Homo sapiens: one gene and its partners. The gene in region 7 interacts genetically with the main gene of each other region. Each region holds a gene or a part of one and is shown on either strand. Other genes may lie near its edges. The genes, in order: CA4, PRDX1, CTSK, CCDC144A, SYNGR3, MARK2 and NF1.

Region 1 (4,271 bases), about 29 Mb from region 7:
AAGGGACATTTTTATAGCCCTGTGAACACAAATGCACTCCCCAGAATAGGCTCTGGGTGTGGAATCCCTCCTGTGGCTGTCATGGTCGCAGGCTGGTGATTACATTATACAGTGGTGTTGACAATAGAGCCCTAAGCCTGGCATGGACACCCCCTCACCTCCCTCCTGCCTCTCTGTAGGATCAAAGCTGCTCTGTGAGGCTGTGTGATCCTGGGCCAGGAGCGGGGAGTCAGCCTCAACCCTAAGCAAGGAGGAAGCATCTTTGCCTGAATCCTTCTGGGGGAGGCAATCCCCCTTCAGAAGTCCCTAGCCCAGGTTCGAAGGTCGGTAGGGACTGAGAGGTTGGCAGCGGATGGGGAGTGGCTAAACCAGAAAAAGGGGGCTTCCTGTTGATGGATTGATGGAGGAGGTCCAGGTCCACTGCCTGGTTCCCCGTCCCTCTCCCGCACCCCAGCCTGAGCTTCCCAAACTCCCACAGAAGCCCCCACCCCATGTGGGACACAGAGGACCTGCAGTAGCAGGAGGGCACAGCTAAGAGAGGAGACAAGAGGCAGCTTGGGGGCATGGGGGGGACCCCATTTCCCCAAATGTTGGAGCCGCCCTTAAGGGAACTTCCCCTGGACTCCTCTGGAGGTCTTGCCAGATGGGAGAACCAGGGGTCCATTCAGACCCCAGTCTCTTCTCTTCCCATCTCATCTCTCCACCTGGGGGGCTCAAAGAACCTAGCTCCTCCCCTTTGACCCCATCAGCTTCTCCCTCACCGAATCCTCTTACAATCCATTTCTTAATTCTGCCCCATCAACCCTCCCTGGTCATCACATAAACACCAGCAAGGGCAGTAGTTTAGGGACAGCTTTGCTCTGTATTCGAAGAAAGGTCTTTGGTCTGCTTAGAAATTAAGTTTGGAGCAGCCTGGGAGGAAATAGAAGAGATGAGACCCAGAGAATCAATGGCCACTGCCAAAGAGAGATAGGAGAGCCTTTCTGCGGCCACTGATTCAACAAACGGCATCACACGCCCCTCAGCCTCTCATCTCTTCGAGGCCATCTCCACCCCCACCCCCACCCCCACCCCAAGGCCATTCCAAGGTCCCATTCAAGACCACTGCGCAGGGGTGGCGCCAGAATGATCAAAGTCATCATGGGGCACTCATCTTTGTGTGGGTCAAGCACTTTGTGGTGTCGTGTCCCTGTTCCCAAACCAGGGACCAGGAGTAGGATGGGGGAGGGGCAGGGCGCCGCTGCTGAGTGGAGAGGACGCGGAGTGGGTGAGGGGGCCTTGCGCACAGGGCAAGAGGTGGCCAGGCAGGGCGGGGGACCGGGGAGAGCGGAGGATTTCAGATGAGGGACAGGGGAAGGTGGAGAGGGGAGGGCAGGCCCCGCCAGGGGGAGGAGCCGCCTCCCGCGTCCAGCTGTCGGGGCTCCCTCCCGTCGCGGCTCCGCTATAAAACCCAGGCCGGCAGGATCGCTGCACCCGCGGCGGCCTCCTCGGTGCGCGACCCCCGGCTCAGAGGACTCTTTGCTGTCCCGCAAGATGCGGATGCTGCTGGCGCTCCTGGCCCTCTCCGCGGCGCGGCCATCGGCCAGTGCAGGTGAGCTCCCGGGCTCCGGCCCCAGGTGCCCCTCGGCGGTCCCCTCCGTGCCCCCAGCTCCCGCCCCTGCAGAGGATCCCCCCGCGGGCGACCGGTGAGCGTCGGTGGCGCTGGGGTCCCGGGTTGCGTGTGCGCCGGGGGCCGCGAGGGTGCGGGAGGACTGGGCAGCGCGCGAGCTTGTGTGTGCACACGCGTGTCAGCACCGGCTGGGGGAGCGTGTGCACGGGTGTGCGCGGTGAGGGTGTGTGCGCGTGGCCCGGCGAGACGAGTTGGGAGTCCCTGATAAGGATGCGTCTCAGGCCGGGCGCGGGTGCTCCAGCCTGAAATGCCAGCACGTTGGGAGGCAGAGGCGGGTGGATCACCTGAGCCCAGGAGTTCGAGACCAGCATGGCCAACATGGTGAAATCCCATCTCTACCAAAAATACAAACATTAGCCGGACGTGGTGGCACACGCCTGTAATCCCAGCTACTCGGGAGGCTGAGGCCCGAGAATCGCTTGAACCCAGGAGGTGGAGGTTGCAGTGAGATCACGCCACTGCACTCCAGCCTGGTGCTCCGTTTAAAAAAAAAAAAAAAAAAAAAAAAAAAAAAAAAAAAGGATGCTTCTCGGACCCGCCTCAACGCACGCCTTCTTTTCTCACCCAGCCTCCTCCGTCTGCCCGTGGGTTTCCGTCCGTCCCGCTGGGACTCAGCGCTGGGTGACTGCCCCGCGGCCAGAGCAAGGGCGGTCTGGCAGGGTCCTGGAAGCCGCGCTTCCCACACGGGTTCCTTGCCCCTGAGGGTCGCAAGCTCCCCTGGCCTCCCTAACCTCCAGCGCTGAATTGGGAGCCTGGCGGGGGCGGGGGGTGGGGGACCCGGAGCCCCAAGGCCTCTGCGGAGCCGGTCTTTCCGGACAGGGTGATTTTCGTTTAAAGATTAATGGTGAAGCCGAGCTCTTAATTATTCCTCTAGGTGGGAGGTGGCAGGAAAGGCATGTTAATATTTGATAAGAAGCTAAAGGCGCTTCAAGCGGCTGGGCACAGGGATCCGATCCTGGAGGCACCTTCTTTGCAACCCCAGACCCCATCACCGGAAGACCCCCTCTGCCAGTTCTCAGCCCAACCACCCCTCGGATGGTTCTTGGGGTCCACGCAGGCTGAAACCTCCTCTCCCAAGTTAGGTGCTCCATCCTCAAAGCGGCGGAGTGAGGGGTGAAGGTGTCCTCTGCACAGAGAGGAGCCAGCGTGTGCCCTTTGCAGCAGGGACTGGCTGAGCTGTCTTAGAGGGTCGAGGGGCACCTTGCAGCCTCTCCACCGGGCCCCTGGGAGAAGAAAGAGAAAAAGCAGAATGTGGAAACTTTTATTTGTAGGGTTGGACATTGGAAACCTACTAAGCAGCTAGAAAGTAGAAAGAGAAATGCTTTGCAGTTCTGGTGCTTTGTAGCTGTGTGGTCTTGGGTAAGTCACTTCCTGTCCCATTTGCAAAACAGGTGTTGTCATTCTGACTTCAGGGGTTTTAAGCGTTTGAATAAGATAATGGGTTTAAGTGATTAGTGCGGTGCCTGTGTGGCACGTGGCTGGTGTGTCATATACCAAGTTTATGGGGCTCTCCCCCAAGCCTGGGGCCAGTGTCAGGAATGTGTCTCAGCTCACCCCTCACACAAGCTGCTATCCCCTTTAGTGCCAAGGCTTTCTGACTGGGACCTGCCTTCCATTCATCTTATGGAGGACTCAAGCTGAGAAGGGACCAGGTTGCATATGGCGACCCCCAGAGCATCTCTGTCCATTGAGACAAGAGGCCGGGTGAGGATATTTGGTCCCCTTCAGAGCCCCAGACCCCTGGCCGGGAGCGACTGAGACTTTGCCCAGGAAACACTTGGGTTGTGCTGAGCTGTTTTTCAGGATTATCCCCTGTCCCTCAGAGGGGGAGGTGGGGTGAGCAAGGTCCATTAGAGAGGCTTCTTCAGCCATCTTGAAATAAGGGGGAGGGGTGGCAGGTCAGTCAGTGTGGGGGGCAGTAGCTGGGTGACAGGCGACTGACTTTCGGTCTCTAACCTCTGGTCAGGGTGGATGGACTAGGTAGGATGTGGCGCTGGACACCGAGACCTCTGGGTAGGTAGCCCCTCTCCTTCCCAAGCCCTCTTGGGAGTGGCCTGAGTCAGTGGGCTGGTACTTACCTGCAAGGGTGGCCCTCTCATTCAACGAAGACAGGAACCTGAGTGGTGGGTGCTCCTGCCACCAGCACCCCACCCTCATCCACCGACATGGACCTGACCCCTGGCCTTGACCTCACCACCATTATGTTTTCCTGGCTGCTGCTTCCTGAAGAAGGTAGTTACAAGTGCGTTCAGCCAAGCAGGTCAAAAGTCTCCATGATTAAGACAGTGGATCACAGGTCACCACTACAAACCTAGGAGCTGCGGCCAGAGCCAGGGAAGACCAAATTCCTAAGAAAAGCTAAGCCTGGACCAGATGGGCCCCAGGGAGGCTGTGAGGCGAGTTACAGGGGGCTCCACCCTTTGCAGCTGGCTCTTGGGGATGCTGGCTGAAGGGAGGCTTCTCCTGGAATGGCTGCCCCCGGGCCCTCCAGTCAGAGAAGAGGCCAGCCCAATCTTCAAAACCCCTTCCTCCTTCAAGACCTCTGCGGGTGGGGACATGGGATGATTATGGCAAGGAACTGTCATGGTGCAAATGCCCTCTG
Region 2 (3,500 bases), on a different chromosome or scaffold from region 7:
GTGGCTTGTTAGATTTGTGTCAATGTTGTTTGACTGTAAAATGTTTTGTCTCCTAGGAAGAAGTATTTAGGTTGTTACCTTCATGTTGAAGTGGTGATTATCAAGTGATTACAGGGTATATATCCTAGGACCAAACCACTTCTGGAGAAACCACATGCTTCATTATGTCTGGACATACTAGCTCAATTATCTTTTCAGTATTCCTCGTCTATTTTCTTTCTTTATTTTTATTTTTGAGACAGGGTCTCATTCTGTCACCCAGGCTGGAGTGCAGTGGCGCAGTCATGGCTCACTGCAGCCTCTACCTCTCTGGGCTCAGGTGGTCCTCCTACCTCAGCCTCCCAAGTAGCTGGGACTGTAGGGGCATGCTGCCATGCCTGGCTAATTTTTGTACTTTTTTTTTTTTTTTTTTTTTTTGAGATGGAGTTTTGCTCTTGTTGCCCAGGCTAGAGTGCAATGGCGTGATCTCGGCTCACCACAACCTCCACTGCCCAGGTTCAAGCAATTCTCCTGCCTCAGCCTCCCGAGTAGCTGGGATTACAGGCATGCGCCATCATGCCTGGCTAATTTTTTTTTGTATTTTTAGTAGAGACGGGGTTTCTCCATGGTGGTCAGGCTGGTCTCGAACTCCTGACCTCAGATGATCCGCCCACCTCGGCGTCCCAAAATGCTGGGATTACAGGCATGAGCCACCACGCCTGGCTTAATTTTTGTACTTTTTGTAGAGCTGGGCGCCATGTTGCCCAGGCTGGTCTCCAACTCCTGGGCTCAAGCCCTCTGCCTGCCCTAGCCTTTCAAAGTGCTGGGATAACAGGTGTGAGCCACTGCCTCTGGCCCTCCTCTATTTTATTATTGGAGAAATACTCATTATCTCTTGTTATAAGAGACATTCTACATTTAAAGTCTCAGAGCTCACTCAAATCTCTGGAGCTGTGACACTGCTCGTTCAGTTTGTTTGGGTCACGTATATATCACAGCTGTTAATATTAGGCTGAGGGCTAGGCACTTTCCCTTGCCTGTTTTGACCCCGGAGGAGAGTTGATATTACAGATGGAACAACTCTCCTTTCTGTTGTCATAGTTTTTTTTTTTTTTTTTTTTTTTGAGACGGAGTCTCGCTTTGTCGCCCAGGCTAGAGTGCAGTGGTGCGATCTCAGCTCACTGCAAGCTCCGCCTTCTGGGTTCATGCCATTCTCAGGCCTCAGCCTCTTGAGTAGCTGGGACTACAGGCGCCCGCAACCATGCTTGGCTAATTTTTTTGTATTTTTAGTAGAGACGGGGTTTCACCATGTTTGCCAGGATGGTCTCGATCTCCTGACCTTGTGATCCGCCTGCCTTGGCCTCCCAAAGTTCTGGGATTACAGGCGTGAGCCACTGCGCCCGGCCTCTGTTGTCATAGTTTCATGCAGACACTTGGCAAGTTCTGTTGAGGCTCCTCCTTTCTTTACCTTGTAGTTCCAGAGCAGCTCGATCTCCTGGGACAGTTGAGGATATAGATTCCTTAGAATGCTAACCTGAAACTCAGGTGTCAAGTGTCCTTTTCTCAGTGGTGTAGCATTAGTCCCTGGAGTTAGTTTTTGGTAGAACATTTGACTAGGTTTCCTGACATAATCACACTTTGTTCTTGGGGCTTCTCCCAGCAAACAAGGTAAGTTGCACCATAGGGAGGTGACCTGGGCCCAGGGGTATAAGCAGGAGGTCTAGGAGGAGCTGTTCTCTGCCCTCCAGAGCTTGACCTGCTGAGGCCCCAAAGTGCTTGTTAGGCAAAGCTGGAAGGGTTGTTTAGATGAGTTAGTTTCCAGTGATACTGCAAAGTGGTAAATGTCAAAAAGGGCTGCTTGTTTGGCTTTTTTTTTTTTTTTTTGAGGTGGAATTTTGATCTTGTCGCACAGGCTGTAGTGCAGTGGCATGATCTCAGGTCACTGCGACCTCCATCTCCCCGGTTCAAGTGATTCTCCTGGCTCAGCCTCCCCAGTAGCTGAGATTTCAGGCCCCCGCTGTCACACCCAGCTAATTTTTGTATTTTTAGTAGAGACATGTTTTACCATGTTGGTCAGCCTGGTCTTGAACTCCTGACCTCAGGTGATCCACCCGCCTCGGCCTCCCAAACTGCCTCCCAAACTGCTGGGATTACAGACGTCAGCCACCATGCCACCACACCCAGCCTGTTTGACTTTTCAAACATTGCTGCTACCTGGAAATGAGTGAATATTTGGAATTGTTCTAGTATTTAAGCCTGGTGGGTGTGGCGAGAAGGCTGCCTGGCCAGTTTGAAGATCTGTTATTTCAGTGGTTAATCCCAGTGACTTCATTAAAATTGCAGCTAGAAGTTCTGTTACTCACTAGTACTTTTGTCTTTTCTGTCTCTCTCTGTCTCCCTCTTTCTCTCTCTCTCTCTGTGTATATGTATATATATATTTCTGTTGTTTTGAGACAGTCTTGCTGTGTTGCCCAGGCTGGCCTCAAACTCCTGGGGTCAAGGGATCCTCCCACCTCAGCCTCCCAAGTAGCTGGGACTACAGACACGCACCACTGTGCCTGGCTTAAAATTTTTCCTGTCCTGTCAGGCACGTTAGGAACACATGTGATCACTTAAACCATGCTTGTTCCATTACTATGGTTCATCACGGGAGAAGTGCAAAGGCTGTGACTTCTTATTGGTGTCTTATCTCTACAGCAGAGGAGTACTGCAATTCAGCTTTCTCTGGGTATTGTTAAGCATTGGCATTAGGCCATGCTTATAAGTGCATCCTTGCTTTTGCTATCTTTGGAGAACTTGGTGTTTATGTTAATTTTAGCCACTCAGAAAAGATCAAAATTAGACTGAACAGTGTTTACTCTGTATTGGTAGCTATGACATGGAGGCAGGAGAATAAAGTATGGGATTGGAAGTTTTTTTCATTCAGGTATTCCTAATGCACCAGGTTCTAAAAGTAGCTTCTAGGAGACATCTGTATTGAGCATCTTGGCAGTTAGTGGTTATTGTGTCAGCCATCAACTTGCTTCTTTTTGTATAGGAAAATATAAAGCAAGGAAGTCTGTGTCAAATGCTAACCATGACTCCGATTTTCCCCCCAGGAAAATATGTTGTGTTCTTCTTTTACCCTCTTGACTTCACCTTTGTGTGCCCCACGGAGATCATTGCTTTCAGTGATAGGGCAGAAGAATTTAAGAAACTCAACTGCCAAGTGATTGGTGCTTCTGTGGATTCTCACTTCTGTCATCTAGCATGGTAAATCTCTTGGTCTATTTGGCATGTGAACTTTTTTTTTTTTTTTTTTTTTTTTGAGATGGAGTCTTGCTTTGTCGCCCAGGCTGGAGTGCAGTGGTGTGATCTCCGCTCACTTCAAGCTCTGCCTCCCAGTTTCACGCCATTCTCCTGCCTCAGCCTCCTGAGTAGCTGGGACTACAGGCGCCTGCCACCATACCTGGCTAATTTTTTGTATTTTCAGTAGAGACGGTGTTTCACCGTGTTAGTCAGGATGTTCTTGATCTCCTGAC
Region 3 (3,500 bases), on a different chromosome or scaffold from region 7:
GATCTCCTGACCTTGTGATCCACCCATCTCAGCCTCCCAAAGTGCTGGGATTACAAGCGTGAGCCACCGCGCCAGGCCTATTAAAATTAACTTTTCTAGATTGAAAGACATCATAAAAAGAATGAAAAGACAAACCTCAACTTTTAAATACATAGTATTGTATCCAAATATTCTCTTTAAACTTTTAAGAATCGCTAAGAAAGAGAAAAAACAATCCAATTAAAAATGAGTAAGGGGTGGGGCATGGTGGCTCACACCTGTAATCCCAGCACTTTGGGAGGCCGAGGCGGGCGGACCACCTGAGGTCAGGGGTTCAAGACCAGCCTGGCCAACATGGTGAAACCCTGTCTGTACTAAAAATACAAAAACTAGCCGGGCGTGGTTGCGGGTGCCTATAATCCCAGCTACTCAGGAGGCTGAGGCAGGAGAATTGCTTGAATCCAGGAGGTGGAGGTTGCAGTGAGCCAAGATCGCGCCACTGCACTCAAGCCTAGGTGACAAAAGCAAAACTCCATTTCAAAAAAAAAAAAAAAAGGGTAGGCCAGGCATGGTGGCTTACATCTATAATCCCAGCACTTTGGGAGGTGGGAGGATTGCTTGAGCCTAGGAGTTTGAGACTAGCCTTGGCAACATAGCGAGACAATGTCTCTACCAAAAAAAACGGTTGTTGTTTTTGGGGACAGGGTCTCACTCTGTCACCCAGGCTAGAGAGCAGTGACATGATCACAGCTCACAGCAGCCTTGAACTCCCAGGCTCAAGTTGTCCTCCCAACCAGCCTCCTGAGTAGCTAGAACTATGCACGCCATCATACCTGGCTACTTTTAAAAATTTTTTCTGTAGAGATGAGGTCTTGCTATGTTGTACCAGGCTGATCTGGAACTCCTGGGCTTAAGTGATCCTCCCACCTCAGCCTCCCAAAGTGCTGGGATTACAGGCATGAGCCACCATGCCTAGCCTCTACAAAAAAAAATTTCAAAGGTTTTTTGAAATTGGTGGGCATGATGGCATGCACCTATATCCTAGCTATTTGGGAGGCTGAGGCGAGAGGATTGCTTGAGCCCAGGAAGTGGAGGCTGCAGTGAGCTATGACTATATCACCACACTCCAGCCTGGGCAACAGAGTAAGACCCTATTTCAAAAAAATAAAAAGAAAAACAAATGAGCAAGAGATAAAAACAGTTAATTCACTGAAGAAGAAATGCAAATGGCCAGATAAACATACTGATAAAAAGGTGATTGAAGGGGATTTCTTACACATTGCAGGTATAAATTTTTCCAAATATTTTGGCAAACAATTTGACATTGTGTAGTAAAGTTGAAGACAGACATACCCTAAGACCCAGACAATTCAGTTCCAAGGCATTATATCCTAGTAAGAAATTCTTGCACATGTGCATGGGAGATATACCTAGGAATGTTTGCAGAAGATAAACATCCCTGGTAGATACATCTTACATTGTTACATACTAGTGGTATGAATTATACTGTCTTATCTCCTTAAGTGTCCATTTCCTCACCTATACATTCAAGATAAGTCTACCTAACAGAGTTGTTATGAGATTAAATGAAAAAAAGAAAAAGAAAAAATGCACTAAGGACACGGCTTAGAACACAGTAGCCATCATTTTTATTCTCAAACTTGCTGTCCCTGTTTCAGAGGTTTCTGTTGTGAAGGCCCTACATTATATTGTCTATCAGACCCAGCCCTATGTGTATAAAAAACCCCTCAGGTTGCCTCCCTTTCAGATATGATTTCCTTCCTATGACTAGAGGATCATGCAGGAGGAACTGAGTTAATCCCTTATCTCTTATATGAAGCAACTTGTTTTTTCTCTCATTTTATAGATGTTAGCATGTAAACTTACATAATTTGCTGAAATGTTCTGAAAACTCACACTGAGATCATATAAAATAAAGCCACACAATTTGTGAAAATAGCATGGTGGGTTTGTGGGTTTGTTGTGGGAGTGAGGAATTGAGCAGAGGGTTATAGAACCCAGCTCGGAAGTCTATGGGGTAGGTAGCCTAGCCTCTGTTTTCTCTCCATGGCAGAGATGCAAATAGGAGCTATAGTAGCTTAAGCTCCCTAAATTCCCCCAGATTGTGGAAATCTTCTTGGCCTTCTGTGGGAAATTATTCCATCAAGAAAGCAGGATAGGATAACAGAAAACAGTATTTCTGGAATTGTTTCCAGTACAAAACATCATGCTGGGGAAGGAGGAGCCAACAGAGCTGTATAATTGTGTGGAGCAATCTCACCTGTCCCACATATGGGTAGGCATCTTCAGAGTCAATACCCCGGTTCTTCTGCACATATTGGAAGGCATTGGTCATGTAGCCCCCTCCACAGCCATCATTCTCAGACACACAATCCACTAGGTTCTGGGGACTCAGATTTAAGAGTTTGCCAGTTTTCTTCTTGAGTTGGCCCTCCAGGGCACCCACAGAGCTAAAAGCCCAACAGGAACCACACTGACCCTGAAAGGCATACAGAGAAACTATCAATCTTTGCTGTTTACATTTTCTATATCTTCTCTCTACCTGCCTGAAGAAATTCCATGTGTTCTAAAAATTTCAGCACAAATGTTGTCATTGTTGTGAGTCTTCCTCTTCCGCTTAATATCTGTTGCACTGTTCTACTGCTATTGATTTTTGCTACCATTTTTACTATTAGCTACAGTAAAGCAGAGCACAGTACCAGCTGTGGAGGCATTTGTCCTGGGTGCTAACCCTGACTTTGCCACCCAGTAGCTATGTGACCCCGGGTAAGTTACTAAATTTGCCTGTGTCTCAGTTTCTCTATGCATAAAATATTGTTATAAGGATTAAATATTTAACTCATGTAAAGAGTTAAGAAGTTCCTGACAAACAATAAAATCTCAAAAAGTATTAGCTATTATTGTTTGTGCAGCTAGATTGTAGATTTTTCTTTCTTTCCTGTTCTATTTTTTTAGATTGAGATTTCCTGAGGACACAGGTTGTGTCTTAGTCATCTTGAGTCTCTGCTGCCTAACACTGCATCTGGTAGGTTCTGGGGGTCAAAAAGTGTTTGTTAAATGAACGTTAAATCAATTGTTTATCTTGCTGATACAATCCTGTGTTGTTTGGGTTGTGAAAAAACTGACATTCTCATGCTAGTAAGAATGTAAGATTGCAAAAACTTTTTTGGGCTGGGCATGGTGGCTCATGTCTGTAATCCTAGCACTTTGGGAGGCCGAAGCGGGCAGATTGCTTGAGCCCAGGAATTTGAGACCAGCCTGGGTAGCATGGCAAAACTCTGTCTCTACAAAAAATTTTTTAAAATTAGCTGGGTGTGGTGGCATGTGCTTCTAATCCCAGCTACTAGGGAGGCTGAGGTTGGAGAATCACTTGAGCCTGAGACGTTGAGGCTGCAGTGAGCCATGATTGCGCCACTGGACTCCAGCCTGGGTGACAGAGACGCTGTCTCAAAAAAAAAAAAAAAATTTGGGGGGGGGGAAAGGATTATTTGTGACCTAAC
Region 4 (3,500 bases), about 15 Mb from region 7:
AATAAACTTTTTTATTTTTTAACAAAACACATTTTAATGTAATCCATGTTTAACTGCAGACTTGCCTTAAAACAAGAAAATGAGGAGAAAAGAAATGCCGATATGTTGTATAATAAAGATAGTGAACAGTTAAGAATAAAAGAAGAGGAGTGTGGGAAAGTGGTTGAAACAAAGCAACAACTTAAATGGAATCTGAGAAGACTTGTTAAGGAATTGAGGACAGTAAGAAATAACTTGGATCTGGTAAATTAATCTTTGGTGTAAACTTCATTTTTCTAACTTTATGTTTCATCGGTATTACTTATAATTTTTTGCCTTCATGTATATCATTTAGGTTTAAAATAAACCAAAACTGTTATTTCCTCTTAAGAATGAACTATGACATTTATAGATAAAATTATTTACTGTAAACCTTGTCATCTAATAGATGCTCAGTCTGTGTTTTTAGAGTGGAGGATAAGTTGAGTTTAATCACTAATATAGCTGTTCATTTACACATTTTTTATGTTAAAATACAGGCTAAATAGCTTTGAAACTATAAGGACACTAGTTAAATGTTTTGAAAGAAATTTTATTTCACAATGCTGTATCTTCTCGTAGTTAAGAACTGTTTTTCCTCTTTGACAGATTTAGCTGTCATGTATGCAATTAAGATTTGAGTGATTCTTGAGGGATAAAAGTTCTTGTGTTTTAACAGGCTACTTCTTTTTAACCGTTTTATAAGAGAGGCTCTGCTCTTAACCTTTTAGATTTTCTTTTTCAGTGCTATTAGACCAAAACCTCCATGTTATCTCTAGGTTGTGCAGGAGAGAAACGATGCCCAGAAGCAACTTTCTGAAGAACAGGATGCCAGAATATTACAAGATCAGATTCTGACGAGTAAACAAAAGGAACTAGAAATGGCTCGAAAGAAAATGAATTCTGAGGTATTTTCTTTAGTCATTTTCAAATATATTTTTGTATGTGAATATATTTTTAAAAAACAACTCTGTGCAACTTGGAAAGTACAATGGATTTTTGAACTACACACACACACACACACACACACACACACATTTGGGGGTGGTGATGGTGGTTCTGGCATTTTTGGCTCATTGAATAAAGTCATGTTCTTAATTCAACTCCATTTGTTTGCAAGAGTCAAGTAGTGACATTCACAGTGGCCTTATCCAAAGGAGAAACATTTGTTATTTTTCATAGAATTAATGATCTTTCCACAATCTCAAAATCCTTGCTACTAACAACAGACGTTCTAGTTTTCAGACATTATTTCATCTTCCTAATATATTAATGGAGAGGTTAGATTATTATTTCCACTTGTAGTAAGGATGAAATGTATAGCCAGTTCAGAGGCCGTACTTCAGATGCCGTTTCCCTTACTTTTGAGGAGAGTAACAGTTTGCTCCAAGTAGCGTCTCATTTCAGTGCAAAGAGCTTTGAAAACAATGATATGCCATAATATAAACTTGGTGATAATTTATTGGTAAGTGTTTTTTCTTAGAAAAATAGTTCAGTGTGTGGGAGACTGAGGCGGGTGGATCACGAGGTCAGGAGATCAAGACCATCCTGGCTAACGCGGTGAAACCCCATCTCTACTAAAAATACAAAAAAAATTAGCCAGGCGTGGTGGCGGGAACCTGTAGTCCCAGCTACTCGGGAGGCTGAGGCAGGAGAATGGCGTGAACCCTGGGTGGCGGAGCTTGCAGTCAGCCAAAATTGGGCCACTGCCCTCCAGCCTGGGTAACAGTGCGAGACTCCGTCTCAAAAAAAAAAAAAAAAGAAAAGAAAAATAGTTCAGTGTATTTCACCCTGTTTCATGCTTATTTCTGTTTCAGACATTATAAAGAGGAAACTTAAGTTATTGTAATAACAGATAATCTCATGATTTTCTAAGAAAAGCTCTGTAACTTCTTTTTTTACCACTGGTGTTTTGAAATAAGCCTCTTTTATATTTATATATACACAACACAGAAGTAATTGTGGTTTGGTGGAAGAGCACTAGAAGTAAAGTAAGGGGACCTAGGGAAAATCCTGCAACTTGCATATTTTTTGACCTCTCCTTTCAGAATTGTGTATAAATGAGTTCAGTGATACATGTACAAGTGCTTGGTACAAGGCCAGGTGCAGTGGCTCACGCCTGTAATCCCAACACTTTGGGAGGCCGAGGTGGGTGGATCACTTGAGCCCAGGAGTTCCAGACCAGCCTGGGCAGCATGGCGAAACCCCATCTCTACAAAAAGTACAAATACATTTAGCTGCGTGTGGGGGTGTGTGCCTCTAGTTCAGCTACCCAGGAGGCTGAAGTGGGAGGATCACCTGAGCCCGGGAGGCCAAGGCTACAGTGAGTCTTGATTGCGTCACTGCCCTCTAACCTGAGTGATGGAGTGGAGACCCTATCTCGAAAAAAAAAAAAAAAAAGCCTAATATAATGCTTAGATTTAGCATTTATGAATAAATGTAATTCTTATATAACTGATGAGAAAAATGTTAGAAAAATAAATAGCTATAGAATATTCTCAGGAAAAAAAGAACTTAAAGAACGTTGGAACATTTCCTCTGTCCAGATATATGCAAAGCTACAGCTTTTACTATAGGGTGGTGTATAGGTTAGATGTCAGAGTGTAAAGCCAATTTTTTAATGTAGTCAAATTTATTAATCTTTAATGCCTTTGAGTTTGTTGTAATTTGGAGACCGTCTTTTCCAATTCTGAGATGCTTAAAAATTCTCTAGTTATTTATGTTCTACATTCATGGATTCATTGTCTTCAAATAAACTTATGAAGTTTTGGGAATTTATGCTCTATGAGGTTTGAAGTTTCGATAGAATATTTTTTTCCAGTTGGATATCCACTTATGGCAATCTTTTCATTGTATACATTATTTAATTTCAGAGAAAATCATAATCTGTCATTTTATTGAGTGCTACTGAATGTTTCCTTTCTTACTTAGATTTCTCATAGGCATCAGAAAGAAAAGGATCTCTTTCATGAAGATTGCATGTTGCAGGAAGAAATTGCCTTGCTGAGACTGGAAATAGATACAATAAAAAATCAGAACAAGCAAAAGGAAAAGAAATATTTTGAGGACATTGAGGCTGTGAAAGAAAAGAATGATAACCTTCAAAAAATTATAAAACTAAATGAGGAAACATTAACAGAAACAATACTCCAGTACAGTGGACAGCTGAACAATCTGACAGCTGAGAACAAAATACTCAATTCTGAACTGGAGAATGGGAAACAGAACCAAGAAAGACTAGAAATAGAAATGGAATCATACCGTTGTAGACTAGCTGCTGCTGTACGTGACTGTGATCAAAGTCAGACAGCAAGAGACCTAAAACTTGATTTCCAGAGAACAAGACAAGAGTGGGTTCGTTTACATGACAAAATGAAGGTTGATATGTCTGGCCTACAAGCTAAGAATGAGATTCTTTCTGAAAAACTTTCTAATGCTGAAAGTAAAATTAACAGCCTACAAATTCAGCTCCATAACACAAG
Region 5 (4,275 bases), on a different chromosome or scaffold from region 7:
TTGCAGTGAGCCAAGATTGCGCCACTGCACTCCAGCCTGGGTAACAGAGTGCGACTGTAACTCAAAAAATAAATAAATAACTAAAGAAATAAATGAGTCGACAGCAGCATCAGACTTGCCCTTGGGATTGGCACGGAGAGGTCAGTGGCAACCTTGAGTTTAGGTGGCGGTGGGAGCTGATTCTGCCGGGTCAGAGGGAGAGAGAGGAGGGTGTTGCAGGCAGAGTTTGCTGCTAAAGGAAGCAGTAACGTAAGGCAGCTGGAGGGGAGGTGGGGTCAACAGTGTTTGGCTTTTAGGAGAAAGTGCAGCATGTCTGGGTGCTGATGTTAGTGATGAAGTAGAGAATGAATGACACAGAGGGGAGGTCTGTGGCCAACAGGTGAGAGGGGTTGTGATCGGACGCACAGTGTGATGGACTTGGAACACAGTGAGTAGCGCCTCTGGCAACACCTGCTCTGCCCACCTGTGCCCAGCAAGGCTGAAGAATGAGCTCCAGGGGGGCTGGGCCACGCAGCACCATCTGTGCACCCGGCTCGTGTAGCAGGGACCTGGGTTGCTTATTATCTGAAGTACAGGGTGGTAACAGTCTCCGCCACTACACAGGTCAAGCGCTTGGCGCTGTAAATGTCAGTGCAGACATCTCAGTGCTCTAGACAGAAACCTAGGAGTCATCTGAACTTCCAGCCTGCTAGGAACATGAGGAGAGGGACCTTGTTGCACCCAAGGCTGGGGTCTGTGGAGGGGACTCAGCGGGACACAGGGCAGCCAGGCACCACCCCCACCCGACTCCTAGTCTCTGATGCCGCTCCCTGCCCTCCATTCCAGACTAGGCGCCGCAAGTACGCTGGGGAGACCCAGGAGTAGGGAGGGCATTGGGAGCACCACCACCTGGCCACGGGCAAGGAGCGGAGACACCGAAACCAACACTCCCAGCGGCGCTGGCCACGGTGGCTCTGTCCCCTCCCTCAACAGGTGCTCCTGGGGCCAACGCCTTTCTTCCCACCAGATCCTCCCCGCCAGAGGCTAGAAGCTGTGATAGCAGCTAGAGCACAGTGGGGGGCCATGAGAAAGACCCCAGTTATCCATCTGGTCTTCTTGGGACCAGGGCCAGGGAGCCGGTCCCCTCTCCCGTGGGTTGGGGGAAGATGCTGCAGCCCGTGGACCTCCTACCCCTTTACTCCCTCACCCAAGTGCCCTTCCCAGAGGAGCGGACTCCTCCTGTCTGTCCTCCCGGCTCTAGCAAAGTCTGCGCCCAGCACCCGAGCCCCACCCTGCCCCCGGGGACCTGGCTGGTGGGTTCCTGAGGATGGTCTCCATCTCGGGACCGGGGCAGGCAGGTGAGGGTGGGGGATGGGAGGTGGGCGCGGCGGAGGGAGAGGAGGGACCCGGCCCCGCGCGCATGGACCCAGTGGGGGGCGCGGGCGCGGCCCCGCCCCGTCCCGCGCGTCCCCGCCGCGGCCGGCGCGCGCTCCCGGGAGGCGGCAGCGGCTGCAGCGTTGGTAGCATCAGCATCAGCATCAGCGGCAGCGGCAGCGGCCTCGGGCGGGGCCGGCCGGACGGACAGGCGGACAGAAGGCGCCAGGGGCGCGCGTCCCGCCCGGGCCGGCCATGGAGGGCGCCTCCTTCGGCGCGGGCCGCGCAGGGGCCGCCCTGGACCCCGTGAGCTTTGCGCGGCGGCCCCAGACCCTGCTCCGGGTCGCGTCCTGGGTGAGTGGTCCCTGCCCGGGCCCCCGCTCCCGCCCCTGCCTCGCGACCTTCAGGCCCCTACCAGCCCCCTGCCCCCTACCCCCTGCCCCCTGCTTCTCGCCCCCCGACCTCACTCACTCTCATCCTCGCCGGCCCCTCCCCCGCCGGCCTCAGGTTGGGGTGACGTCACCGGGCAGGGCGCGCCCACCTGCGGGCGGAGGAGGGGCCGGCGGCGCCGGAGAGGGACCTTGAGAGGTCACCGCCGGTCGCCTCTACCCCTACCTCCTCCCCGGGTCTAATTTCAGTCCCTTTCCGCAGCCCTTACTCCGTTTTTCCTGTTCTCGTGACCTGGAAGCAGGGACGGGGTGGGGACGGAATTCTCCGAGGGGCAGGAGGGGGCTACGGGAACCGAGAAGCGCCTCCCCTTCCCCCGCACACACACCCTCGGGTCTCCTTGGCAGGGAGCCTGTCCCCTGGCCCCCAGTTCCAGCTGTGAGTTGAGGGAGGAGAGGCTCTGGGCTGGGAGGGCTTCCTGGCGGCGGTGTGGAAGGCAGGTTTGGGAGCAGCCTAGCCCACTGGGGCGTCCCTGGGAGGGCCCTGCTGCTCCTTCCCTCCGGCAGGGGAGGTGGCAGTTGGGTGCCGAGCTCTGGGTTTTGTCCAGGTGGCAACCTCTGGGCCAGCCGCACCTCGGCGCCTGTCTTGGAGGAGGGCGGTGCCCACGGTGGGGCAGGGGCTTTGGCCTCCCCTGCGGAGTGGCTCTGACCAGACCGGGAGGCAGGACGCTGCGTTTTGGTCCGAGCGCACGTCCCGACTTGTGGCCCACTCTTGGGGACAAGTGCATGTCCCGGCTTCCCCCTTGGCTCCACTCTCGGAGCTGGAGCGGGAAAGGAGCGAAGGGATGAGGTTGAGGCTGGAGGTCGTTTCTTGGAAACACAGGGCTGCCCCGTGCAGCGCTGGTTAAAATGACTGCGGTCCCCCTCATGCCTGTCTCCCGGAACTGGTGGGCAGGAGGCATTGAGGTTTGACGGAACCTCAGAGGTCAACGGTGTCATCTTTTCAGCCCAAACACTTACAGGTGATATTAATAATCAGTCACGTGGGGGCTGTCATCCCTCGGGTACCCACCACGTGCAGGAAGCTGGGTGGACATGTCTGTCCCAGCACTGCATGAGCTGTGCCCGTCACCCTATTTGCATGCTAGAAAACAGGCCAGACAGTTCCCAACCGCGCAGGAAGCAACAGCTCCGCTGCCTCCATACCCTCCCTCCCGCCCCGCTCTGCCTGCTGCACTCTCACCTCCCCTTCGCCGTTCCGGCTCCAGCCTGGGAATCGCGGGCCCAGGTGAAGGCTCCTGTTCCCACACTCTTGAGTGGGCTCTGAGGGGACTCCACGGGCCCACGCGGTGCAGAGTACCTGGCTTGAATCAACCCCGGCTTTTGTCAGCCATGTGATCCCGGACAAGTCACTTCACCTGTTGGGGTCCCAATGTCCCCCGCATTTATAAAGAGAATAAGAACAATGGCGATCCCACGGGGACTTTCTGAGGATTTGGTGAGGGGACGCATGTAAAGTGGCTGTTTAACACAATGTCTGGGCATAGTAGATGCTCACTAAACGGCCCGTGTTGTCAATAATTACTAAATACGCGAGGGTTCGGGAAAGAAAGAGGTGACACCGCCCCCCACCCAGATACGGGCCTGGGAACGCAGGGACAGGCCCAGGGGCGTGGGCGCTCGAGGCGGGCTCGCAGAGGTCGGGTCGCCGCAGGGCCCTGAGCGCCGCGCCGCACGCAGGTGTTCTCCATCGCCGTCTTCGGGCCCATCGTCAACGAGGGCTACGTGAACACCGACAGCGGCCCCGAGCTGCGCTGCGTGTTCAACGGGAACGCGGGCGCCTGCCGCTTCGGCGTCGCGCTGGGCCTCGGAGCCTTCCTCGCCTGCGCCGCCTTCCTGCTGCTCGATGTGCGCTTCCAGCAAATCAGCAGCGTCCGCGACCGCCGGCGCGCGGTGTTGCTGGACCTGGGCTTCTCAGGTGGGCGGGGCCGGGGCGGTGAGCGCGGAGAGCCTTCCGGGTGGGCGGGGAGGGGGCGGGGCCTGGGCGGGGAACACCGCTGGAGTTTCCAGCTGGGCGTGGCCGTGACGAGGGGCGGGGACTGAGGCAGGGAGTGTCAATGGGCCTCCCGGGTGGGCGGGGAGGGGGCGGAGCCTGGACGGGGAGCGCCGCGGGACTTTCTAGGTAGGCGGGGCCCGGGTCTGGGCGGAGCCTGGGCGCGGAACGGGTCTGGCGCTCCCGGGTGGGCGGGGTCAGCGCAGGAGAGGGAGGCGGGACCTCGCGCCACGCGGCGAGCCCAGGCGAGGCGCCCCAAGCCTCGGGCCCACCGACCTTTCCTCCTCCGGGCGAGGCCGCCGTGGGCCACCGCGTGGAGCGTCGCCCTGACGCGCCGCACTGTTCGCAGGACTCTGGTCCTTCCTGTGGTTCGTGGGCTTCTGCTTCCTCACCAATCAGTGGCAGCGCACGGCGCCAGGGCCGGCCACGACGCAGGCGGGGGACGCGGCGCGGGCCGCCATCGCCTTCAGCTTCTTCTCCATC
Region 6 (3,500 bases), on a different chromosome or scaffold from region 7:
CTGGGATTACAGGCATGTGCCACCATACCCGGCTATTGAGTCTGTTGCTTCTGTCTAGTGCTTTATGTTTGGGTGTGTGTATCTGTGTGTGTGTGTGTGTGTGTGTGTGTGTGTATGTGTCCGTCTTCCCGTCTGTGGATCTGGAGACTTTGTGATTGTTCTTCTGCCCATTTGGGTTTTGTTCATCATCTGAGTATCCCCACATGAACTCCCAGCCTCCCTGCCCTGCTCTCCCTCTGGTGGTGGGATCCTTAAGAGGCACCTGGTGACACTTGGTATAGGCCCATATTGCTCTGTGTTGAGGGGAGTGGACTTGAGTCTGGACATGTGTTCTTGCGGATGTTTGTGTCTCTGGGTGTGTGGGCTTATGTATTCCTTTCTGAGACTGTGTTTGTCAGTGTCTGTGTCAGAGCATGTGTGTCTCCAGGGTCTCCTCCAGGGGGGATGTATTGGTCTTACAAGTGGATGTCCGGTATGATCCTGGGGTGTTTGAGTGTTGGGAGAGGGCGGTATGTGTAAATGTGTCCATCCATAGGGATCTCCACATGACTTCTGCCCTCCCTTGAAGCTGTTTTCTGTTTCTTTCAGCTGGAAGGCGACACCATCACCCTGAAACCCCGGCCTTCAGCTGATCTGACCAATAGCAGCGCCCCATCCCCATCCCACAAGGTACAGCGCAGCGTGTCGGCCAATCCCAAGCAGCGGCGCTTCAGCGACCAGGGTAAATGCTTTTGGGAGTTGTAGGTGGGGACTCACCCCTCTCCAGAGAGGTTACAGGTTCTGTGGGGACTTGGGTAACACAACTAAGTTTCAGTCCTGGTTCAGCCACTTATTAGTAGTGTGGCTATGGGCAAGCCACTTCCCTTCCCTCGCCTCTGTGGAATGGGGGCTTGCTGGGTTGTTGGCCAGCCCTGTAGGAAATGAGCATGCGTGGGGCTGGCACTCAGTGGACCCCTTGGCCTTACCCATTCCCATCCTCCCTCTGGCCCAGCAGCTGGTCCTGCCATTCCCACCTCTAATTCTTACTCTAAGAAGACTCAGAGTAACAACGCAGAAAATAAGCGGCCTGAGGAGGACCGGGAGTCAGGGCGGAAAGCCAGCAGCACAGCCAAGGTGCCTGCCAGCCCCCTGCCCGGTCTGGAGAGGAAGAAGACCACCCCAACCCCCTCCACGGTGAGCCGCACCCCCCGCTCTCTCCTTCCTTCCTGCGGTGGGGCCTGCCCTCTCCAGGCAGCTCTTCTCTTAATTCAGACTCTGTTCCCTTTGGCTACTACTTCTGCTTATAGCAGGAAGCCTCGCTCCCAGCAGTAAATGCAGAATCCTTTCCTTAACCTACCACTGTCTGCTTCAGGTGGAAGGGACAGGAAGCCTGTTCCATGAACCTGGGGGGAGAACCTGGCTGTAGACCACTTTGGCTTTCTGATAGAACGCTTGCCCTTTATTCCCCACAGAACAGCGTCCTCTCCACCAGCACAAATCGAAGCAGGAATTCCCCACTTTTGGAGCGGGCCAGCCTCGGCCAGGCCTCCATCCAGAATGGCAAAGACAGGTGAGAGACCCGGGCCCTGCCTGCCTCACTCCCTAGGAGCCATGTCTCACAGGGTGATGTCTGTCAGCAGCACCGTCTCCTGTCCCTGCCAGCGCATTGCTCCCTGCTCCCTGGAGTTCCATCCTGGCTGTGTCCAGTCCAGCTTTCCCCTCCCCTATTCCACGCCATTGCCTCCTCCCCATCTTCCTCTGACTGCTACTTGCAGTTTGCCAAGTGTGGGGCTGACCGTGGCCATCTCAGCTACATGCTCGCTTCTTGACCACGGCCAGGGCATGGCAGCTGCCCTCCTCTAGACATGAGCAGCTAAGGCCTTGTGTTGGGGGTCCCAGCTCAGGGCAGAACCAAGAGATGCCCACCTTGAGGGGTGTACACATAGAGGGCGACTCCAGCCATCCCCATGAGACCAGAGCTCCCCAGCCTTCACCGGCCGCATTTCTTGGTGTTGCATTCCTGGCTCTATCTCTTCTGAGTTTATGAAAGTTTCCCCTCAGCAACACCCCACTCTTTCTGTAGAAGAAACTCTCCTGTTCTTAAAATTCTTAGGAGGCCAGTGCAGCCTGGAGGCAGCGGCCCCTTGTCTGCTCTCCTTCATTTCTGATTCCTCTTCCCAGGCACTGACCCACCTCGCTGCTTCCCGACCTCACTCACCTCCACTTCTCAGCCCCGCATTCCTCAGTTCTGACTTGCATCCCGCTGCTGCCCAGGCCTGACTTCTACCCTGCCAGAGCTCCCCAGCTCTGGCCCTTCCCCTGCCCTTGCTTCCTAATCCAGGCCTCCCGCCCTCACTCACCCCTAACACGGGCCTCTCCGCTGCTTTTGTTTCCTAGCCTAACCATGCCAGGGTCCCGGGCCTCCACGGCTTCTGCTTCTGCCGCAGTCTCTGCGGCCCGGCCCCGCCAGCACCAGAAATCCATGTCGGCCTCCGTGCACCCCAACAAGGCCTCTGGGCTGCCCCCCACGGAGAGTAACTGTGAGGTGCCGCGGCCCAGGCAAGTGTGCTGGGGCAGCTGGTGCACCTGCTGCCCTCAGCCCACCCTACCCCCTTGCCCCAACAATTTCTTCTTCCCACTTGGGGGTCCTGCTGTGTTCTTGTCATCTTAGCCACAAGAAATGGGTCTGTCCCCTGCGGCCAGGAAGTGGAGGGAACAAAAAAGAGCATTAATGCCCCTCTTTTCCAGTTCTCCCTCTCAGAACAGGTATGCAGGAAGCTGTCCTAAGGCTCCAAAGGGAAACCTTTTTGTTCTGAACCTTCCAGGGTTTCCTTAGGGACCCCGGGGATAGTCGGCATCACAGGGACTCAATCCTCAAGGGTTGGTCCCCATTGCCGCCTTGAGGGTCCAGTCTGCCCGGCTCCCAGGGAGCCCGCTGTCTCCAGCCTAAACCACACTCCACACAGGGGTCCTTCCTTGCCTCCCTCCCTCCCTTCCCAAACCATCTCCTTCCACTTCCACGAGACTTCCTTCTCACCACTGTCCTCAGTAGTCACACCCTTCCTTCTGTGTCCTCGTGATGGCTGCCTCTGCCCTAGCATCCCCCTCCCTGTCCCCACCACAGGGTGTCCAGGTGCCCAGTGATGGCTGTCCTGTACCCTAATTCGTCCCCCTCAACCCCACTTCTCTTCCCACAGCACAGCCCCCCAGCGTGTCCCTGTTGCCTCCCCATCCGCCCACAACATCAGCAGCAGTGGTGGAGCCCCAGACCGAACTAACTTCCCCCGGGGTGTGTCCAGCCGAAGCACCTTCCATGCTGGGCAGCTCCGACAGGTGCGGGACCAGCAGAATTTGCCCTACGGTGTGACCCCAGCCTCTCCCTCTGGCCACAGCCAGGGCCGGCGGGGGGCCTCTGGGAGCATCTTCAGCAAGTTCACCTCCAAGTTTGTACGCAGGTAAGCAAGGAGCTTTGGGTGGCAGAGAGGCTCAGGCCAGGCCTTCCTGCTTTACTCGGGGTGGGT
Region 7 (3,500 bases):
ACCACTTTAGAACTGGATGGTAATACCATGCCATTATCGAATCTTTTTCATTTTATTAATACAAAAACATGATTTCCAGATATCTTAAATATAAAAATGGGATAAGGTCAGACCATCCTAAAACAGTGGCCACTTCATTTTACTCCTTTTAAATATAATCTTCATTTGGCACCCAAACTCTTATGACGATCAAGTATACTTCTCCCAGCTTTAATTTCTCCATAGTAATAATCACTAACATACTACGTATTTTGTTTACTTCATTATCCATTCACTCCCCAACCTCCACACCCACCCCAGAAAGTAAGCTCCATGAAGGCAGTGAGTTTTATGGGCTTTGTTAGTACTCTATCTCTAGCGCCTAAAACAGTACTTGGCAATAGCAGATAATTAATAGTTATAAGATAAAATAATTAAGAATATATACCTATCTTTCCTTTAGCACTGATGAGACCAAAAACTTACAAGCGCTTGAGAACATACTATCCATACTTACTCTTCTTCTAATATGACTACTTCAAACAACTAAACTTTAAGAGGTTCTACTTTAACTATAGTTTTTTCTTTATAACTTATTCTCAATTCATCTTATTTTCTAAACTCTTTGAAAGAAAGTAACATTCAACACTGATACCCAAAATGAATGCACTCATTTTCTATACAGTAATTACCTTATTAAGAAGTGGCTGTAATTTGGTTAGTGCTATTACTGTAGCTTCTATCAGAACTTGACTGTTGTAAGTGTCAGGTCCTTTTAAGCAACTCTCAAGTGCCTTTTAGGAAAACAGAATTTTTTATTTTACTTTCATTGAAATAAAACATTAACTCCTAAACTGAATCTCGGAATGAATTCAGGAACATTTACTTATTTAATAAATGCTAGAATGATTTCTCATGCTATGGTGATCTTGGTAGCTAGCTTAATGTACATTTGTTTTCTTATTTTTTGACATTTCTACATTATAAGAGTCAGACATTATTATAGTAATTACAAATTAAATAATTTTATGCAAGGCTATAGTCTTACCATATAATTAAATGCTTTGAAAACTGGTAAAATACTAAGTGTACCTGCTTAGCAAAAGAGGCAACATATTTTATTTTAAAGACATCTTCCTTAATGAAGTAATCAGAGTTTACATATAAAGACAGCTTCTTTAGAGAAGACTTCTTCAAAGAATTACAATAAATAATCAAAATACATTTTAAAGGCTTAATAAGTAACATATAAGATATTTCATTGACCTCAAATTTAAACGTCTTTTAGAAAAATGAAAGATATGCTTTACAACTTGAGAACCATAAATATTTGGGAGAAGTGAGGGCGGAACAGGTACCTTGCTAAGAATACGGATTATCTGCTTTATCTGCCCATGAGACACTCGTTTGCTAATACACCCAAAGACAACAAGAGCTCTTGGTTGCAGGGATGGATTATATTGGAATGCAAATCTGCAATTAAAAGATCCACAGAACTTATAAAAACCTTTGTGTTTATATATACTAAATAATAAATTATAACATTGATCATACAGTAATAGCTGTATTTTCAACAATATGCATATTTTTACAACTTATATTTAATTTAGGACATACCTTTGAGCTAGTTCTGTCCACTGGTCCAGCCACTTGCACGTTGGAATATCTCTCATGCATGCCTAAAAAAGGGGATACTCTGAATACATATTGTACATAAATGTTTTTAGAACTGTTTAAATAATGTTTATTATGATGTCATTAAGTGACCTGTTACCAATAACACAGTCCATGCAAGTGTTTTTATTTAAGCATTAAGTACAAAATAGCACAATAAACCAATATTTCTTCTATATAGTATTAACATATTTTTAAAAAAAGATTTTAACTTAGTTTCTTATCATTTTGGCTTCTATACCTCCATGATCTCCAACAAAGCTTCTGTGACTGTTTCCAAGGATGTCAAAGCAAAAGTCTCTCTCTCATAGGAGCCAGGAGAGAATGACCTGTCCCGGTAACTGGAACGGAAGGCAATGACAGCAGCTGACTTGACTTTGCTAATGCCAAACAGCAAGTAAAATTTGGGTAATGAGAACTCTGTCAGACTGAGTCTCAAAACTTGCTTGGTCTCTTCTGTAAGAGAATAAAGGAACAAGTAAAGACAGAAAATATTACTTTTTAATTTCTAAAGTTCCATGTTTCATTTTGAATTTAGAAAATTTGAATACCATATAAAAATTACATAATCATGTTCCCTAAATCAAACCTCTAGATACATTGTATTAATGCTCCTTGCTTCATTTATCTACAAATTAGTGCTGGTAACTGAACATGGTCAACTGGCACTGAGTATTCCGCTTATGGGATAACTCTACATGACAAGTATGCATAGAAAATCTTTACTATAGCTTGATATGGAATGGAAGTAATTTATTTTCTTTTTGGTAATATTTCATGTCATTACTGGAGGCTTAAATTAGCAACTTGGTGTTAGAGCACAAACATAAATAAGATAATCTATATTGATCAGGTGAAGTAAAATGGAGAAAGGAACTGGTAAACACAAATTCCTTTCCTAGAACTTACCACTAAAATGAAGCTGTGAACAAGTACACAGAGAGTGAATGATATTAATGACCAGTCCATGTGTGGAAGCTCTAAGGGAGAGCGGACCTGTGGCTACTAAGAAAGTAACAACGTGGAAGAGGTAGGGAAGATGAGCTGCCACATCAAGGGAATTGTTGAAGGACAGCATCAGCATGTAGCGTGCTAAAATAGCAATATCATCCCACATAAGATGTTGTTCTAAAGTAGGAGTTGGAGATAAGCATGTCTTGTCAATTATTTTGCACATCCTTCCAATAACCTGTAAAGAAGCAGGATTTTTTTTTTTAAAAAAAAAAACATGGGACTCAAAGTTTTAGCACAAAAAAGTTCAGTTTAATTTAAAAGTAATTACAAAACAAAAAACCTCCTGATGATAAAACAGATATGCTATAGTACAGAAGGCAAAAGAAAAGTGATTACCTTGCTTGAAACCAATTTCACATTTCCAGAAGCCAAAGCTACAGCAGTATCTGCCATCACCTCAGCTTTTATTGATCCCAAGCCACCTGTTGCACTGGTTTTGATGAAACTGTCTAGTACAACATCAAGCAGATCTGTAATCTAGTTGAAGAAGGAAAATAACATGTTTTTAATCACTCTACCAATTTAATTTTTAATTAAAAAATATTCATTGGAACAGCCTAATCAATATGAAAATTCTATTTTACCTGAGGCCTCAAAAATACTAGATTTTATTTACAGGCCTGTCAGTAAATACAATTTATTATAAAATATCCAGTAAAGGATGAGTATATTCATTTGACTCCTTCAGAGATTAAGAGATTGGTATTCAAAAATTTTAAATCTCTATCAATACTATCTTCAGTCACTTGCAAAGTATCTCTATGCTTTTCTAAGACAGTAATGTAGCATCAATATAAAATAGTAATTTGAAAATACAGAGCTGGGTGCAGTGG

Evidence for each region.
Region 1: changes in NF1 (region 7) and CA4 together harm fitness more than expected from each alone (negative genetic interaction), as found in Homo sapiens cells (one large-scale study listed by BioGRID).
Region 2: changes in NF1 (region 7) and PRDX1 together harm fitness more than expected from each alone (negative genetic interaction), as found in Homo sapiens cells (one large-scale study listed by BioGRID).
Region 3: changes in NF1 (region 7) and CTSK together harm fitness more than expected from each alone (negative genetic interaction), as found in Homo sapiens cells (one large-scale study listed by BioGRID).
Region 4: changes in NF1 (region 7) and CCDC144A together harm fitness more than expected from each alone (negative genetic interaction), as found in Homo sapiens cells (one large-scale study listed by BioGRID).
Region 5: changes in NF1 (region 7) and SYNGR3 together harm fitness more than expected from each alone (negative genetic interaction), as found in Homo sapiens cells (one large-scale study listed by BioGRID).
Region 6: changes in NF1 (region 7) and MARK2 together harm fitness more than expected from each alone (negative genetic interaction), as found in Homo sapiens cells (one large-scale study listed by BioGRID).

The regions. Positions count from the first base shown.
Region 1 is NC_000017.11:60,148,502-60,152,772, forward strand, and holds the start of CA4 (carbonic anhydrase 4 preproprotein), read left to right. Parts: upstream 1-1,471; 5' UTR 1,472-1,533; coding exon 1,534-1,591; intron 1,592-2,263; exon of another isoform or gene 2,264-3,028; intron 3,029-4,271. UniProt on the Homo sapiens protein: Catalyzes the reversible hydration of carbon dioxide into bicarbonate and protons and thus is essential to maintaining intracellular and extracellular pH. May stimulate the sodium/bicarbonate transporter activity of SLC4A4 that acts in pH homeostasis.
Region 2 is NC_000001.11:45,515,385-45,518,884, reverse strand, and holds part of PRDX1 (peroxiredoxin-1), read left to right. Parts: intron 1-3,077; coding exon 3,078-3,231; intron 3,232-3,500. UniProt on the Homo sapiens protein: Thiol-specific peroxidase that catalyzes the reduction of hydrogen peroxide and organic hydroperoxides to water and alcohols, respectively.
Region 3 is NC_000001.11:150,801,761-150,805,260, forward strand, and holds part of CTSK (cathepsin K preproprotein), read right to left. Parts: intron 2,480-3,500; coding exon 2,261-2,479; intron 1-2,260. UniProt on the Homo sapiens protein: Thiol protease involved in osteoclastic bone resorption and may participate partially in the disorder of bone remodeling. Displays potent endoprotease activity against fibrinogen at acid pH. May play an important role in extracellular matrix degradation.
Region 4 is NC_000017.11:16,731,741-16,735,240, forward strand, and holds part of CCDC144A (coiled-coil domain-containing protein 144A), read left to right. Parts: intron 1-59; coding exon 60-243; intron 244-797; coding exon 798-926; intron 927-2,949; coding exon 2,950-3,500. UniProt on the Homo sapiens protein: May play a role in preventing the formation of kidney stones through inhibition of calcium oxalate monohydrate (COM) crystallization, attenuating COM-induced apoptotic injury to renal epithelial cells.
Region 5 is NC_000016.10:1,988,495-1,992,769, forward strand, and holds the start of SYNGR3 (synaptogyrin-3), read left to right. Parts: upstream 1-1,475; 5' UTR 1,476-1,608; coding exon 1,609-1,707; intron 1,708-3,479; coding exon 3,480-3,717; intron 3,718-4,141; coding exon 4,142-4,275. UniProt on the Homo sapiens protein: May play a role in regulated exocytosis. May indirectly regulate the activity of the plasma membrane dopamine transporter SLC6A3 and thereby regulate dopamine transport back from the synaptic cleft into the presynaptic terminal.
Region 6 is NC_000011.10:63,901,610-63,905,109, forward strand, and holds part of MARK2 (serine/threonine-protein kinase MARK2), read left to right. Parts: intron 1-588; coding exon 589-721; intron 722-991; coding exon 992-1,173; intron 1,174-1,451; coding exon 1,452-1,549; intron 1,550-2,376; coding exon 2,377-2,538; intron 2,539-3,176; coding exon 3,177-3,434; intron 3,435-3,500. UniProt on the Homo sapiens protein: Serine/threonine-protein kinase. Involved in cell polarity and microtubule dynamics regulation. Phosphorylates CRTC2/TORC2, DCX, HDAC7, KIF13B, MAP2, MAP4 and RAB11FIP2. Phosphorylates the microtubule-associated protein MAPT/TAU.
Region 7 is NC_000017.11:31,335,977-31,339,476, reverse strand, and holds part of NF1 (neurofibromin), read right to left. Parts: intron 3,145-3,500; coding exon 3,004-3,144; intron 2,843-3,003; coding exon 2,563-2,842; intron 2,110-2,562; coding exon 1,895-2,109; intron 1,659-1,894; coding exon 1,597-1,658; intron 1,453-1,596; coding exon 1,338-1,452; intron 774-1,337; coding exon 672-773; intron 1-671. UniProt on the Homo sapiens protein: Stimulates the GTPase activity of Ras. NF1 shows greater affinity for Ras GAP, but lower specific activity. May be a regulator of Ras activity.